2 separate regions of the Homo sapiens genome follow, and region 2 is linked to region 1. Evidence: fine-mapped expression QTL. Tissue or cell type: whole blood. Region 1 holds a variant in brackets; the other region holds the start of a gene. All regions are shown on one strand. Distances are between the middles of the regions.

Evidence for each region. PIP is the estimated chance that this variant, and not a neighbour inherited with it, causes the effect.
Region 2: it holds the start of ZNF496, and the variant in region 1 is fine-mapped to the expression of ZNF496 in whole blood (TOPMed, PIP 0.99).

Annotation. Positions count from the first base shown.
Region 1 is chr1:247,355,723-247,363,827 of GRCh38, forward strand. All of the region lies in intron 1 of ZNF496-DT (ZNF496 divergent transcript), which reads left to right. Among named protein-coding and RNA genes, the nearest start is that of ZNF496-DT, 28 kb to the left of the region's middle. RefSeq lists enhancers at 2,008-2,307, 6,912-7,456. The variant C/G (reference allele first, on the strand shown) is at 4,760.
Region 2 is chr1:247,327,739-247,335,843 of GRCh38, forward strand. It overlaps ZNF496 (zinc finger protein 496), which reads right to left and starts at 4,129. Exons shown (of 10, transcript NM_032752.3): 1 at 4,052-4,129; 2 at 3,694-3,909; 3 at 2,228-2,343; 4 at 1,451-1,877; 5 at 945-1,128. The coding sequence starts at 1,840. It overlaps ZNF496-DT (ZNF496 divergent transcript), which reads left to right and starts at 4,316. Exons shown (of 3, transcript NR_168399.1): 1 at 4,316-5,508. RefSeq lists enhancers at 1,120-1,622, 4,009-4,303, 8,075-8,105 and silencers at 3,167-3,406, 3,977-4,086, 4,217-4,696, 5,809-6,103.

The sequences.
Region 1 (8,105 bases):
AAGAGAAAACTCCCTTCACATTCCTGCAGAGGCTCAGAGATGAGAAAATACTCCAGATTAGATCCGGAGGACCCAGTAGGGCAAGGCCTGTTGCAGATTAACTTTGTTACTAAAAGCTGGCTTGACATTACAAAAAAAAAAATTACAAAAGATTGATGGATGGAATGAGAAACCGATTGAGGAATTACTGAGTGAAGCTCAGAAGGTCTTTGTGAAAAGAGGGGAAGAGAAGCAGAAACAGAAAGGGAACATCATGATTTCCACTGTGGAAGAGGTAGCCAAAAAAAGATTAGCTCAAGATCCCCCTCAAATGAGACAAGGGAATGATAGATTTCGACACAGAGAAAGAAAGGAAATGCAGGGGAAACCTCCTAAGACTATGAGTGGCTAGATGTTACAAGTGTGGAAAGCCAGGGCATCTTAAGAGAGAATGTCCTCAATGGAAAAAAGAAGAAGAGATGATCCCCCTCATGACCGTTGATGAATACAATGGGGGTCAGGGCTTCCTTCTGAGTAGGTCCCACCAAGAACCCTTGATAAATTGGAAGGCGGGACCTTAGGGAGAAGAAGTGACATTTTTGGTTGACACTGGGGCAGCTCACTCCTCCCTAATCCACAAACCAAAGGGTACAGAACTCTCTAAGGAAAAACTGAAAGTATTAGGCGTAAAAGGGGAGGGATTACAGGTTCTGATATTCAAGACAATGTTAATTAGACTGGGACCAGAACACATTGAGGGGTCACTCTTATATATTCCTGAAGCAGGAACTAACCTAGTGGGTAGAGACCTGATTGTGAGATTCAGTTTAGGATTAGGGATACACAGAAAGGACAAATGAAAGTAAGGATGGGCCTCCTAACAGAGGAGGAGGGAAGAAAAATTAGTCCCGTTTTGTGGTTTGGGAAAGGCAAGCGGGGACACTTAAGAATCACAGCCTTACAGATTGGACTAAAACAACCAGGAGGAGTTTGCAGAAAACAATATCCCATTTCTGTTGAAGGGAGAAAAGATCTCCAACCAGTAATAGAGGGATTAATTAAAAATGGACTGTTAGAACCCTGCATGTCACCATATAATACTTTTTTTTTTGAGATGGAGTTTCACTCTTGTCATCCAGGCTGGAGTGCAATGGCATGATCTCAGCTCACTGCACCCTCCACCTCCCGGGTTCAAGCAATTCTTCTGCCTCAGCCTCCTGAGTAGCTGGGTGCGTGCCACCACACCCAGCAAATTTCTTTTTGTAGTTTTAGTAGAGATGGGCTTTCACCACATTGGCCAGGCTGGTCTGGAACTCCTGACCTCAGGTAATCCACCCGCCTCAGCCTCCCAAAGTACTGGGATTACACGCTTGAGCCTGTGCCTGGCCAATACTCTAATTCTTTGTGTTGCTTATCTGGGAGGGAGAGATTCTGTGTCTATTCCCAGCCATCTTTTTGCAGCTGCAGGCATCTCCCACCGCCCCCCCATCCCAGTCAGCTTTAGCTTCCCTATCTTAATGTGCCTAAAGGGAAAGGAATGTGCTTATTAAGGCCCACTGTTTATACTGGGCCCGACTGTGGGAGTGTGAAGTTTGGTGTTTACCCAGGAGACATCCCCCGCCTCCTTCTATGCTTAAGTTGTTTATCTGTAGTTTATAGCCTGAACTTTCAGGCTACCCTTTGTTAAAAGAGAAGTGATTTCTTTGAACCGCACGAGATTAGAAAGGAAGCTATTTCAAGAGTGTTAAGGGGAATTATGGAAGGTTTACAAATTTGATGGGATTATCCCACCCCTTGGCATCCTGTGGAAAGGTAAAAAGAATAAACCAAACTCTCAAAAAGCATCTCACCAAACTAAACTTAGAAACTAAAGTGCCTTGGACCAAATATCTCCCATGGCTTTAGGATTAGGATTCGGACAGTCCCCAGAAAAGACTTGGGATTGTCCCCTACAAGTTATTATATGGACTCCCATATTTGGGCAGGGCTACAGATCCTCCCACTATGGAAACCAAAAACCAATTCTTAAGAAATGATATACTGGCCATATCTTCCACCCTGTCATCCCTCAGGTTAAAAGGTCTTCTGACGCAAGCTCTGCCTCTTGAGTTCATGGTTCACTACTTCCAGCCTGGCAACTTGGTGCTGACTAAGATTTGGAAAGAAGACAAGCTCCACCCAAGCTGGGAAGGTCCCTGTCAAGTGCCTCTGCCCCTGAGACAGCCCTGCGAACAGCTGAATGGGGGTGGACTCACTACACTGGAATCAAGAGGCCGGTAAAAGAGACCTGGAAAGGGAAGGAGAAAGAACAGTGGGAAGTGCATGGGTCACCTGACGAACACTTAAAGTTAACTCTGAGAAAAATTTAGAAAGAAAGCGTGGGCTGGCTGCATTTCTGAAAGGTAATAAGGCTGGGATGGGTTAGTATACAAAGAGCAGAAGGTCAAAATGGAAACTGGCAGGGGACTCCCCACTGCTCAATCAGGTTGGTGATTAATATGATTAAGACGGTAGCACCCCAAACTATAAGATTTGATGCCTGTCAGGTTTTACCTTGTGGGAATTTAGAAAATCAGAGACAGCTCTCGCAGGCAGATAAATCTCTTTGCCTTGAACCAGATGCAGGTTGCAGTAGGGCATCACCCTTCCCCAGCTGGGAGGATGTATGGTGCGCTACCCAATTTCAGGGTTGGACAGTAAACATGGTGTGGGTAACTCCAAACTGGAAACCCTTGAAGCATAAACTACCTCTGTCCAAGCGCTCCCCACCAAATAACTGCCAGAATTTAGAATGCCATCCTATACTCATCACCCTTGACAATTCAGCCTTTCTAGACCAAGAACCAAAAGTAGCATCTCAGGTATATGGGTTAGGAGAAGACATCACAAGGAAAGACCCCCAGGTCGATTTGATCTCAGGCTAATCAAGAACTCAACCTCCCATTTGCCTGGAACTACTCCAACCCCAGACCCTAATAAACACTTTAGTCTACCAAATATTAACCCTAAAATGGTAACAATAATTGAGGTAAAGGATTTAAGGCAAACCTTAGAAATTGAGACAGGGTATAGGGATGTGAATGCCTGGGTCAAATGGGTCATATTTTCGGTACAAGCCCTCAGCAAAAGTAACTGCTACGCGTGTGCTGCAGGACCACCTCAGGCGCAGGTGGTTCCGTTTCCCCTGGGATGGAATAGTGATTCTAGAGGAATGTGTTGCATGTTGGCTGCATACCAGCACAATGATATAAGTAAGGAGAAGTAAGACTTGTAAGAGTCTTTCATTGCTGTTTCCTGCATTGCGGAGCTCAGATCCCAGAGCAATACCCTCGTTCTCTGCAGAGAACATGAACTACTCCTCTTGCCTCTCTAGACAGGGGGCAGAGTTCCATAAGCCTATGGGAGAACTCTCAACTTGTACCCACATCCTAAACGTCACTGGTGAGTTGAGCAATGGCAATTACTCAGCTCTCCATACACCCCGGGCTGATGTCTGGTAGTATTATGGGAAAAGGAACCTACGTAACCTGTTACTGTCCAATGGGACCAGGACTTGTGCTTTAGTCTCATTGGCCATTCCCTTCACCCTGGCATCCCATAAGATACCCCAAAATACACATGGCCACTGAAACCAGAGAGATTTCACAAATTCTTTTAATCCCAATGTGTATGTTGACTCAATAGGAGACCCTGGTGGGGGTAGGGTTGCCTAATAAATTGAAGGCCTGAAACGCAGTAGGTGCTGGGTTTAAAGTCAGGACACTTCTGCTGGTCAACTATTAAGAAGAATGCGAATTAAATTAACTCCATCTATTATAATCAACAGGAATTCATCAATTATACTTGGGATGCCCTCAAAGGGTGGCTAGCCAGTTAGATGCCACCAGCTAAATGGCCTGGGAAAACAGACTTGCGCTAGACATGATACTAGAGAAAAAGGGAGCGTGTGTGTTATGCTGGGCGGGAAATTTTGTACTTTCATTCCCAGCAATACTGCCCCAAATGGGACCATCACAAAAGCTTTACAAGGACTAACAACTCTAGCCAACGAACTGGAAGAAATGCTCGGAATTAATGACCCATTTACGGGTTGGCTAGAAGGCTGATTTGGAAAATGGAAAGGAATGGTAGCTTCAATCCTTATATCTCTCATAATTGTGGCAGGATTCTTAATAGCAGTGGAATGTTGTATTATCCCTTGTGTGAGGGGACTAGCACAGAAATTAATTAAAACAGCTATTAATAAACAAATGCCCATGACTTACCAGCAAAATAACCTGCCACTATTAGAAAGCAAATTAAACTCACTCTCCTATGAGGAAGAAAGTAAACAACTTCTGGAGCGATTCACGGCCCAAAAGGGTTTAAAAGAAAATGAGAACAAAATAAGTAAATAGAAAAGAGGAGGGAATTGGTGAGAAAACCTTTTAAATGGTCCATTTGCAAGGCATGATAAGTCTAAGCACTGGCAGCCAGCCTGCAAATGTAAGAAACCACATGGCTCATGCACCCAGAAGGTCACAGTAAGTGGACAGAATGTAGAGGTGTGGTCAGCTCATAAAAGGGAAGAAAGTTTTGTTATGGGGAAATCAAAACTTAAGTGGGGAAGAGGACGGGGTATAACTTTGTAAGGGGGATAATGAAAGTTAGGCGATGTCCGGGAAGATTGTAACCCCACAGTACTCAACCAGTGAGGAACTGGGGGAGGGACTTGTGTGCTAGGACATAAATTACCCGTTGTGACCGCCCTGGTTGTGCCTGCTCACCAGACACCCGATCT[C/G]GCAAGACCGTTATGAAAAGTCTCCCTTTCGCTGTTCTTTGTGCCTCTAAGTCCATTCTTTGGGTTTGGATGGGTGAGTGTGTTTCTCACAAATGCACCACTGCACCCCTGCCTAGGTGACAGAGACAGACTGTGTCTCAAAAAAATGAAAATATCAGGGAACTCAATGCAAAAGACTGCGGCGCTTTAGACTTGAGAGTAACCTGCCCATGACCCTTGGGGCTCCGTGAGGAAGACAAAAGACCCCCAAAAGGAGGGTGTATGGCACCTTTTTCTGGTTTCTCAAGGGGTCTCAGGACTGCTAGAAGTTCCCTCTTGATTTCTTCGTGTGTTATTGAAGGTGGCAGAAAGGAAGAAGGGCCAACAGTAAATGGGAAAACAATTCTTAGAGGGCTCAATTTGGGAAGATTTTAAACTTCCCAAAAAGGCCAAGGATGTTTTACATTTTTCTCAGTAAAAATCATGCCGACAACAACAACAACAAAAAAGTGAACAGATGGAAGGAACATAAAATTGCTTTTTAACAAAATTTCAGTTGACTGAAAAGAATTCCCAGGGTAGGAACAGGATCCAAAGAGAAAAAGCATTGCTCTATATATCTGCCAGGGAAAAATCCCCCAAAAACTAAAAGAAAAAAGAAAAAGCAGAAGGGTGTGTTGAAAATACACAAGCAGCAAGCTTTCTGTTTCATGAGCACGTGGCCTAACACTGGAGTGGAAAGAATTTCGGCTGTGGAGCGCTCCCACCCGCTCTGCTCATGGGAGGAGCCCTGCCTCTCTTCAGCTTCCCAGCAGTGGTGGGAGACACACGTCTCTTCTGCCCACGGGAGGAAGCGAGACAAAAGAAAAAAGTTGCTATCACACTCTAAATACAAACCAGTTTTCTATCAAAGGTATACCTGAACAAATGACTCAACGCCAAGTGAAATAAGCACCAAGGAGACCAGAACCAAGAAGCCTTTCACGGCTTTCACCAAGGTCTCCAGAGAGGAGGCAAAAGTTGCAACCCTGCTCAGATCCAGACCACTCCAGGCAGCTCAAATAAAGGAGAATTTTAGTAGCTGCAAATGGGGCTACTGTCTGGCCATATTATCTAGGGTTTCAGCCTCTCAGCTGGCTGACTGCACACAAAGGCCTGACAACCCGTATCTCCCACAGACGGAAGATTGCATGGCAGTTTGTAAGATGGGAAGTCAAAAGCTGTCTGTGGGAATAGACAGGATTGCAAAGTGAAAGGGTACCCCAAAAGGTCAGAGTTATGCAAATACCAAACTAACTTTTTACAAATGTTTCTATTTGTTTTGTCCTGAGTTAAAAGATTTGCATTTCCAAGAGTCTGGTTTCCTGACTGGGAATCAAATCCAGGCTGTGGTGGTGAAAGCATGGAACCCAGGCCCTAGATTAGGGTGGCCCGTCTTCTTTGTAAATCCCAGGGGGATCCAAAACAGGCAGCTTGGGCGCACTATATATATATATATATATATATATATATATATATATATATATATATGTGACATATATATTATATATGTGACATATATATTATATATGTGATATATATATTATATATGTGACATATATATTATATGTGATATATATTATACATATATAACATATACATGTTAGAAATATATATTTTTTATATCATATATATATATTTGTTTGAGACAAAGTCTCGTTCTGTCACCCAGGCTGGCGTGCAGTGTGGTGTGCTCATGGTTTACTGCAGCCTCAACCTCCTAGGCTCAAGCAGTCCTCCTGCCTACCCCTGGCTGAGTAGCTGGGACCACAGGCGTGTGTCACGATGCCTGACTCATTTATTTGTTTATTTATTTTGTAGAGATGGGATCTCCCTATGTTGCCCAGTCTGTTCTCAAACTCCTAGGCTCAAGCAAGCCTTCCTTGACCTCCCGAAGTGTTGGGATTACAGGCATAAATCAGTGAATCCAGCTACACAAAGGATTTATAACTTAGTTGTAAATCTGATTTCTGCCTTAAAAAAAGAAATCCTGCTAAGGGAGTTTCTAAGGCTATATATTCCTTTTGTGTCTTTTCATAGGTACCAATAAGAAAGCTGTTTAAGACAAGAGCTCTTAGTGGCCGGGCGCGGTGGCTCACATCTGTAATCCCAGCACTTTGGGAGGCTGAGGCAGATGGATCACCTGAGGTCAGCAGTTCGAGGCCAGCTAGCCAAGATGGTGAAACCCTGTCTCCACTAAAAATACAAAAAAAAAAAAAAAAAAATTACCTGGGCATAGTGGTGCGCACCTGTAATCTCAGCCACTGGGGAGGCTGAGGCAGGAGAATTGCTTGAACCCGGGAGGCTGAAGTTGCAGTGAGCAGAGATTGCGCCACTGCAGTCCAGCCTGGGCGACAGAGTGAGACCTTGTCTCAAAAAAAAAAAAAAAAGAGACAAGAGCTCTCTAAAAAGTTTTCTTTTAAAATATAACTTTTTAACTTATTTATTATGTTTTTTCAAAATTTCAACTTTTATTTTAGATTCAGGGGATACATGTGTGGATTTGTTACATGGGTATATTGCATGATGCTGAGGTTTGGGGTGCAAAGCATCCTTTCACCCAGGTAGTGAGGATAGTACCCGATAGGTACTTTTTCAACTCTTGTCCCCCTCTCCCTCCACCTCTCCCCTTCTCCTCTCCCCCTCTCTCTCTCTCCCCTTCTCCTCTCCCCCTCTCTCACTCTCCCCTTCTCCTCTCCCCTCTCTCACTCTCCCCTTCTCCTCTCCCCTCTCTCACTCTCCCCTTCTCCTCTCCCCCTCTCTCTCTCTCCCCTTCTCCTCTCCCCCTCTCTCACTCTCCCCTTCTCCTCTCCCCTCTCTCACTCTCCTACTTTCCTACTCTCCCTGCTCTAGCAGGTCCCAGTGACTATTGTTTCCATCTTTATGTCCATGTGTATCCAACGTTTAGCTTCCGCTTATAAGTGAGAATGTGGCCGGGTGCGGTGGCTCACGCCTGTAATCCCAGCACTTTGGGAGGCAAAGGCAGGCGGATCACCTGAGATTGGGAGTTCAAGACCAGCCTGACCAACATGGAGAAACCTTGTCTCTACTAAAAATACAAAACTAGCCAGGCGTAGTGGCGCATGCCTGTAGTCCCAGCTAGTTGGGAGGCTGAGGCAGGAGAATCACTTGAACCTGGGAGGCCGAGGTTGCAGTGAGCCGAGATCACACCATTGTACTCCAGCCTGGGTAACAAGAGTGAAACTCCGTCTCAAAAAAAAGAAAAAAAATGTGAGAACATGCAGTATTTGATTTTCTGTTTCTGCGTTAGTTCACTTAAGATAATGGCCTCCAGCTGCATCCACATTGCTGCAAAGAACACAGTTTT
Region 2 (8,105 bases), 28 kb before region 1:
GCCCCCCAGACACTCTCTTTCCATTGTACCTATAGAGCACTATGGCAAGTCCACCCAGAGTCATAAGAAAGCCCCCCTGGCCCCCCAGACACTCTCTTTCCACTGTACATATAAAGCACCGTGGCAAGTCCACCCAGAGGAACCCACGGGCCAGACTTCCTTCAACCCAAGGGCGCTGGTTTCCCATGATATGTACTTAAAGTTTTGGGCACCTCAGGCCTTGTGTTCAACCTTTTGTAGGTTGTATCTCATTTAATTGTCCAAAAACCCCAAAAAAGGTAATTACTATCTCTGCTGGACAGAGGAAGAAACTGAGGCTTTCAGAGTTTAGAAACATGCCTCAGGTCATAACCAGAAGATTCAAATCTAAGTTTATCTGATGAAAAAACTACTTTCCTGTAGCTACCATGTACTTCATATACATACTCAAACTATGTGTAGCTGATGTTCTGGCCCCACACACTAGACACCACCCTGTGTCCTCCTAAGTATTTCTACATCTCTTCGCAGCATCACAATACTCCTGTAAACAGGAGTTGTTTAGCCAAGGAAACAGAGGTTCCAAGAGACAAGAAATGGCCATGCTCCAGTCATGCAGCAGGCCCCAGCTGTACACTGGCAGTCCCCAGCTGTCATCAAACTGACAAATCCTGCAGAGATGCACCCTCGAAGAGATGAGAGGGCACCACCTCAGTGACACCCACCTACAGAAGCGTTAGCTCTGAGAGGCTCTAGAACCATGAAGAGGACAAACATCCTGATGAGGTTCTCATTTAATTGCTCTAGGAAGGGACTCAGACCCTGACAACAGCTCACAGCACCTCGGGGACACGAGAACACTGCTGATGTAAAAGCCATCAGCTTAACAAAAACCACACCCAGTGCACAGTATGGGGTGTGCACTTCCCCAGATCACCCCTGCTACACTCCCCTGGGCTGCATACCTGGGTCCCCGCTGAGCTGGCTTGGTGGTCTGCTTGGGAGCCCCAGGCACTGTGCCAGGGTTATGGGCTGGGCATCCTGGTTCTTTGCAAGGTCGCTGTGGGGCTCTACCGGCAGCTGCTCCTGCTCCTGGTCCAGAGGGCTGTCCCCATCATCAATCACCACAGGGTCTTCACAGTGCTTGAGCTGCAATCCCAGAGACAGCTTTTCAGGGCTAGGGGAAGAGGTCCCATCTCTCCCTGGGCCTGGTGACCATCCACTCCACAGCTGACCATCAAAGGCTCAACTTAGGCCTTGGACTGGGCTGTAAAGGGGCACGACACTATCATGCCCAAATTAGAGCCTTCAGGGAGTAAAACTGGCTTTCTTAGGAAACTCTAGTCTGGACCTAACCAAAGTAAATGGCTCTCGATGGAACTCCTCATTCCCCAGCCAGCACATGCATGGCCCAGCCAAAGTGTCTAAGTACCAGATCTCTACCCGTCCCAGCCCCACCTCTTCTACTCACCCACTGCCAGGGTCTCCCGGGCTCCCGTTCCAGTGCCTCCACCGCGGCCACAGCCTGCTCTCCGCTCTCAGGCTCCTGCGCCCGCACCCAGCTCTGGATCTCCCGGGGCAGGATGGCCAGGAACTGCTCCAGCACCAGCAGCTCCAGAATCTGCTCCTTGGTGTGCCTCTCAGGCCGCAGCCAGCCCCCGCACAGGTCCCAGAGGCGCTGCAGGGCCTCCCGGGGGCCCGCCGCCTCCTGGTAGCGGAAACGGCGGAAGAGACGCCGAGAGGACTCGGGGCTGGGAAGCTCCCCCTGGGGGCTAGGGTTCTCTCCAGGTGGGCTCCTCATTTTCCTGGGCTCCTCACTTTCCTTCGGAGCCAAGACTCGGGGGCACAGGGCTGTGGGCATGATGGGATTTGATGGGGGTCAGCAGCAGAAGACGACCCTATTTCCAAACAGAAATCACTGGCTTCAGTGTTCTGGTCTCCTGTGGTCATTTCTGGGGGACAGTGACAAGGAAACTGTCAATGCCCTCAGAGACCAGCCCTTTGGAGAAGCCCTGGGAAAGGTAGGGAGTGTTGGTGTGGCTGGTCTTTACACACAGGATGAAACAGACAGAAAGATGCCCTCCCCCCATCAGTACCATTACGTGTGGATTCCCGTTAAGTGGGTGACTGGATGAACAAGACAGGAAATCTGGGAGAAAGTGGTGGCATTTCAACGTGACACTGCTGTTTTGAGCATCCCAGGAAACCAACAGCGCCACATGCAGATGTAATCAAGACGCTCTGGTACCTTGGGTGGCTGGGTCCTCCTGGAGAGATCCGAGATGGGCAGGCCAAGCAGGCCACTATCTTGAAGCTCCGGAGCCGAAGTCACTGTTCTTGTTATTAAGACCTTTACAAATGGAGCTGGAATGACAAAGACATGCATCGGATGAGCCTTCAAGCACATCCAGGAATGGAAAATCCACCCTTCTGGTGGCAGAGGGCTGATGGTGCTGCGTGCTGGATGGACAACCCAGCCAGAATCAGCTTTGCCCAGCAGAGTCTGCAATGGGAGGCAAGGGAAAACATCACATGAGACAGCTACATGCAGTCTACCAGGGACAAATAACACTGCATCTAGAAGTATCAGTGGTTTCCTATGAGCCTTCTGCCAATTCTGCCCTGACCTTCAACCTCGCCTCCACCCTATTCTCTATCCTTGCCCTCTTCAAACCACATTGAAGGCAACTGCACACTCGCCAAAGCCCTTCCTCGGCCAGGACAGAAAAGTGGGTCCGTCACTGCACAGCTCAGCCCTCAAAGAACCCCTGGACACTGCAGCTGCCACACCCCCAAGGTGGGACTCAGGGGTCCCTACACCTCCCCGCTGGTGTGCAGACAACTAGCCGACACTTTTGCCACAACTAGGGTGGCAAGAGACCAGCAACCAGTATACCTGGTGTTTATGATTCCCACTTTAGAACGCTGGGCCCGTGAAAGGGCACATGGGGACACTCACAGTCCCCTTCTCTGCCATCAGGCCTCTGTGATCCTTAGGACCGGCAGTGCCTGCCACTCCCCCATCTGCACGAGGTTGTCCAGCGTGGCCGCGTCTTAACCTCCAACAGCTCACAAGGTGGGAAGGGGGACTCGGGCCTCACTCCCATTTCACAGAAAGACAAGTGATGCCAGAAAAGCTACGGAACAACTGAGTGGTTCCAGAAACACCCACTGCTCTGAATCTCTTTGCTTTCCAAAGTAACAACATACACAGAAACCCATATGGGGGCCGTGGCGGCGTCGGGCTGGACGCATTACAGCGCTCCCCACCACCGGATCGCTTCCAGGGCGGCTCCGGCATCTGGAGCCCGGGGTGGGCCCCGCCCGCCCTGCTCGGCGGCCCCCTGCGGCGCCCATCACACACCTGCAGCGCCCAGGACTACTCAGGCCCGCCCCCCCGAGCACCGGCGCCCACCCGGGCTGCCACTCGGATCGTCTCCAACCAGACGGCCGCGTCCGTCTTTGTCACGGCGGCACCTGGCGCGTCGGAGGCTCGGAGGAGATGCCTGATGAATGAACTAACGTGAGTGAGGCGGAGGAGGGCCCCGCAGGGGCGGAGCGAGCTCCCAGCCTTTCGCGGAGGAGGGACCGAGCTGGATCGGCAGAAAGGGAAGGAGAAGGTCGCTGTGGGCCAGGGAAGGGGGAGCCCGCCCTCCGCGCCCTCGGTCTCCCTCACACGCGCGTCTCCCGTCTCGCCGGCTCCGGGCTCCTCACCTCACAGCCTGGAGCTCCCTCCCGGCGTCCGGCCGAAAACCCTCCTGTGGCGGCGGAAGTCCAGGGCAGCCGTCCTCATCCTCCCAGCCCGCCCGGCCGGGCGTACTCGCTGAGGCGGGGTCTCCGCAGGCGCCCGGCTCCTTTCCCGGCCCGTCCAGACCGCGTCTCCCGATCATCCGGAAAGCCACGGCTCGGCTCGGGGGCAAATGGAGGCGCCTGAAAAACAATGGTGTTGCTTTCTCCCCCGCCCGCACCTTCCTGAGCGCTGGGCTCTGGGCTGGGAGGCGGCGCCGCGGAGGCCGGGCGCGGGCCGAGGAGGGCGGGGCGGGGCCGGCCGCGGGAGCCGGGGTGCACTCACCGCCGCGGCGCGTCCCTGTTGGCGGGCGGCGCAGGCCTGGCCGCCGCGGGAGCCCGCCGGACGCCGAGGAAAGGAAAGGCCGGAGCCCTCCGGCTCCCTCCCCTGGGACACTTCCTGCTCCGCTCTAGGACTGGGGAGGTCTCCGCATCTCAGTGGTTCGCTCCCCCGCCCCCCGGCCGAGGTGTGCGCTGGGGGTGACATCCGACACCCCCGGCCCGCCCCGCTCCGCGCGCGCCTGGGCCTGGCCGCCGGGCCGGGGGCTTTGTGGGTCAGCCACGTCGCCGCGCCCGGGCTTCCCCGCGGGCCCGCCGGTCCGGAAGGTCGGCCCGGGGCTCTTTTCTCCGCTGTTCTCCTTCTCTGGCGCCCCCAGGACACGCGGCCAGTGGACGCCCGGAACGGCCGACCGGGAGTCGCGGCTGGGGATGGAAGCTGGAATTGGGGGTGCGGGATGGAGCGGAGAGAGGAGGCCCCGCGCGCCGTCGGCCGCCTCATTTCAGACTCCCCTGCGACCCCCCCCCCGCCGCCAGCCGAAGCCCGGGCCGCCCAGCCCCTCCTGCCGCTGCGGGACGCCGAAGGTAGCGCTCACATCCGCGCCTTCCGGGCCTGGCGCCCACGTGCGGAGTCCCCGGGTTAGGAAAGGCCGCGCATCCGGAGGCCACGCAGAGCCTCGGGGCTTGCGCAGAGGGGCTGCGGTGAGTCCTGACCCTGAGTGGGGGTCACGGGGCTCGTTGCTCGCTGAAGTGAACACGGTTGCAGCTGTGCACAGTGGCGGAGGGAGAGGATGAGGGACTCTGACCCAAGGTTATGTGGCAGTGAGGGGCAAGCAGAAATGGGGGCCTCCGGACCCCACCCCGAGACAGGGCTGCTGGCCGCTGCACTATGCTGAATATAGCCCAAATTCTTACATGGGTCGTCCCCGGGGAATGCTCATTTTTCAGGCTCCAGAGCTTGAGAGAAAGTGCGAACCCGGTCCCTGAGCAGGTCTGATTCCCATGGCCCCTTCGCCATCTGCTCTGCACCGAAATTGGATTCTCCTACGCAGAGGAGAAGGTGGAGAAGATTCTCCGTCTTCCGGAGGGTAGCTACTGCCGGTAGCTCCGATTTCCTTCGGATCCCCTTTCAAGGGCAAGCAGAAGGAAATCAGTTTCTCCAAAGAAAGTGGCCCGGCTGAGTAAGTGGGAACAAGGTGGTTGGACTGAGGCACGGGATCCTTTAGCTCCGTTGCTCTTCTAATCCCGTGGCCCTGGGCACCGCCACTTCCTCCTCTGAACTGCTGGAATAATCACTTCTGACTAGCAGAGTTACTGGGAGCCGCTGTTTGTCAGTGTTCACATTCTGACTTTAGCAGGAGATGGAGCGAGCGAAGGAGTGAAGCCCTTGTTTGTGAACAGTGATTGTTTCCCGGATGACAGCCAGATGCCGGGCAGGGCCACGCAGATCTTAGCTGGAGCCTACAGGTACAAGTGAGAGCCACCCCCTTTGACGTAACTGGACTGGCATTTACAGAACTCATGTACAGCCCACTCTCAGGAACACCAGCCAGGAACCGTGACATGGAGGAGAGGAATTGGGAGGAACCGAGGGGTCATCAAAGGCTGGTAGGGCTTAGGTGCTCTAGCAAACATCCTAGTCTGTGGGGTTCCAGAGCTCTGGTGCTACAGCTCCCAACCCTTTGATTGGCCCAGGAACTGGCTGTTGAGTGGGCATCCGTGTTCATAGCTCTGCCCCTTGCAACCCTAAAGCAGATAAAATGCAGGAGGCAGAAATTGCTGGCAGACAGCATCCAATTAATCCCCACTACCCAATTCAGTTTCTTCCCCTGACCTGACACGTCCCTGCCCAGCTGTGCCTCCCACTGTTCACCTTTTGAGGCACAAAACGGGCTGTTTATGCTGCTGCTGCATTTAGCTCAAAACAGGGCTTCAGAGTCAAGGTTCTGGACTCAGGCACCCGGATTAAATCCTGCCCTATGAATTCCTAGCCAGGTGACCTCAGGCCTACATAACCTTTCTGTACCTCAACTTCCTCATCCAGAAAACAGGGATGATGCTGTCTACCTCATTGGATGGTTGTGCAGGATCAAAGATTCAGTCATTCAGCAAACCTATACCGAGTACCTACTGTACACTCATGAGTGCTAGGCAGCCAGCCTTCCAGGTGCTCAGGTACATCTGTGAACACAACTGGCTATTGGAGGAAGCAAAATCAGTAACATGACCTGCTCTCTTTGATCTGTGCTACAGAAAAAAAGGAAAGTGGAGAGGCATCAGGAAGTCAGGAGTGCTGGGGAGGGGCTGGTAACAGTCATGGTATTAAAGAGGAGGGCAGGCAGGCCTTACTGTGAAGGTGGTATTTGAGATGAAGTAGTTGGTCAGAGTCCCTGTTTGACACATGGAGACCACCTTGACAGCAAAGGCCCTAAGGGGGAGCGGTGCGAAGCAAGGTGGGCTGGTGAGTGAGAGGAGAGGGATGGCATAGAGCTGGGTGGGGGCACAGGAGCCCGTGGGGAAGGTGTTCGCCTCTGAATGAAGTGGGGTTGTATCAGATACCACGGGTGAAGCATCGGGAAGAGGATCCTGCCTGTAAACCCTGCTCAAGGACTGCACCATCATCATGCCCAGTGTGTGCGTGTATTAGGTTTGTATGAATATAATGTTGCCAATTGTATCTGTTTTTATGAAATGTTTGCTATGTGCCAATGATTATTCGATCCATGGGGAGACCATAGAAGAATGATCCAAGGAGTTGGGAGGGGAATCAAATAATAAATCAGCGATTCTGCAATATAACGCCATTGGTGATCGGTGTCATGAAAGAAATACAACATGGTGGGGAAGAGTGTGCTGGGGATGTTCAGGTAGGGCCTCTGTCAGGAGGTGACATTTGAGTGGAGAGCAGGTGGGGGGCTCCTGAGCAGAGGTGTGTGGGAAGAGTATTCCAGCAGAGGAAACAGCGTGTGCTTGCTCAGCTGGGCAGAGGAATAGTGAGAGAATGGTGAGGCTGGAACCAGGTCACCAGATGTTATAGTCATTAGAGGGTTTCAAGTAGGAGTGTGGCCTAACGGAATCTTGATTTTATCAAGATCACTGTGCAGAACAGATGAAGCAGAGTCTCTGTTAGGAATCGTTGTAGAGATCCCGGCAGGAGATGCTCGGTTCCTGGAGTTGACTGGTGGAGGCACAGCTGGTGAACAGTAGGCCCAATCCAGGCTCTGTGTTGAAGGCATGCTGCCTGTGTTAGAGGAGTGAGGAACGGCTGTGACTGGGGCTGAAACTGGGTGACTGAACAGGCCTTCTAGAGATGGCAGATGCAAGGAAGCAGGTTTCCAGGAAGGGGTTGGGTTTGGGGTTGAATTGGTGGATTTGGGACTTGCTGGTTTTCAGATGCCCAGGAGACAAGTGGGGATGACCCTCTGGGATAGAAAGCTGTGGCTGGAGGTGGAAATCTGGAGTCACCGTATGTAGCAGGAGCTGGGGCTTGAGAGGGTTGAGTGTGTTTTGAGAAGCAGCCCCAGGGAGGGCAGACCCTGCGAAATGCCAGCCCTGGACCGTGGGAGCCCAAGGGGTTAGTGGAGGAGAAGGGAGAGAAGGGGAAGTAGGAGGAGGAAAGTGAGGGAGGACGAGGGCAAGAGAAGGGGGTAGGGAGAGCTGCTGCCGCCTTGAGATAAAAGGAAAATTGCAGGTGTGGAGCCCTGGAATCCAAGTGAGCACCTGTGTTTCAAGGAGAGAAAGAGGTCAGGGGGATAAATCCTGCGCCAAGATCAAATCCGATGAGGAAAGAACACTGCCCATTGAATCTGGTAGAGAGGCCCCTGAGCAAAGCAGACAGTGGAGCTCCTGGGCTAGGGCACTTTCTGGAAGAGAAGGGAGATGAGAGTGGACACAGCCCTGTGGAGAAAAACGGTCTCATCTTAAAGATGGGAGAAATTGCAGTGCATCGCCTGGAGGAGGGAGGGCTGGCACCCAGGGCCCACGGGGAGCCGGAGGGCAGGGAAGGCTGCCTCTGGACCTGAGGCATGTCCACAGCATCTGGGCAGGGAGAGCCTGGGGCAGGC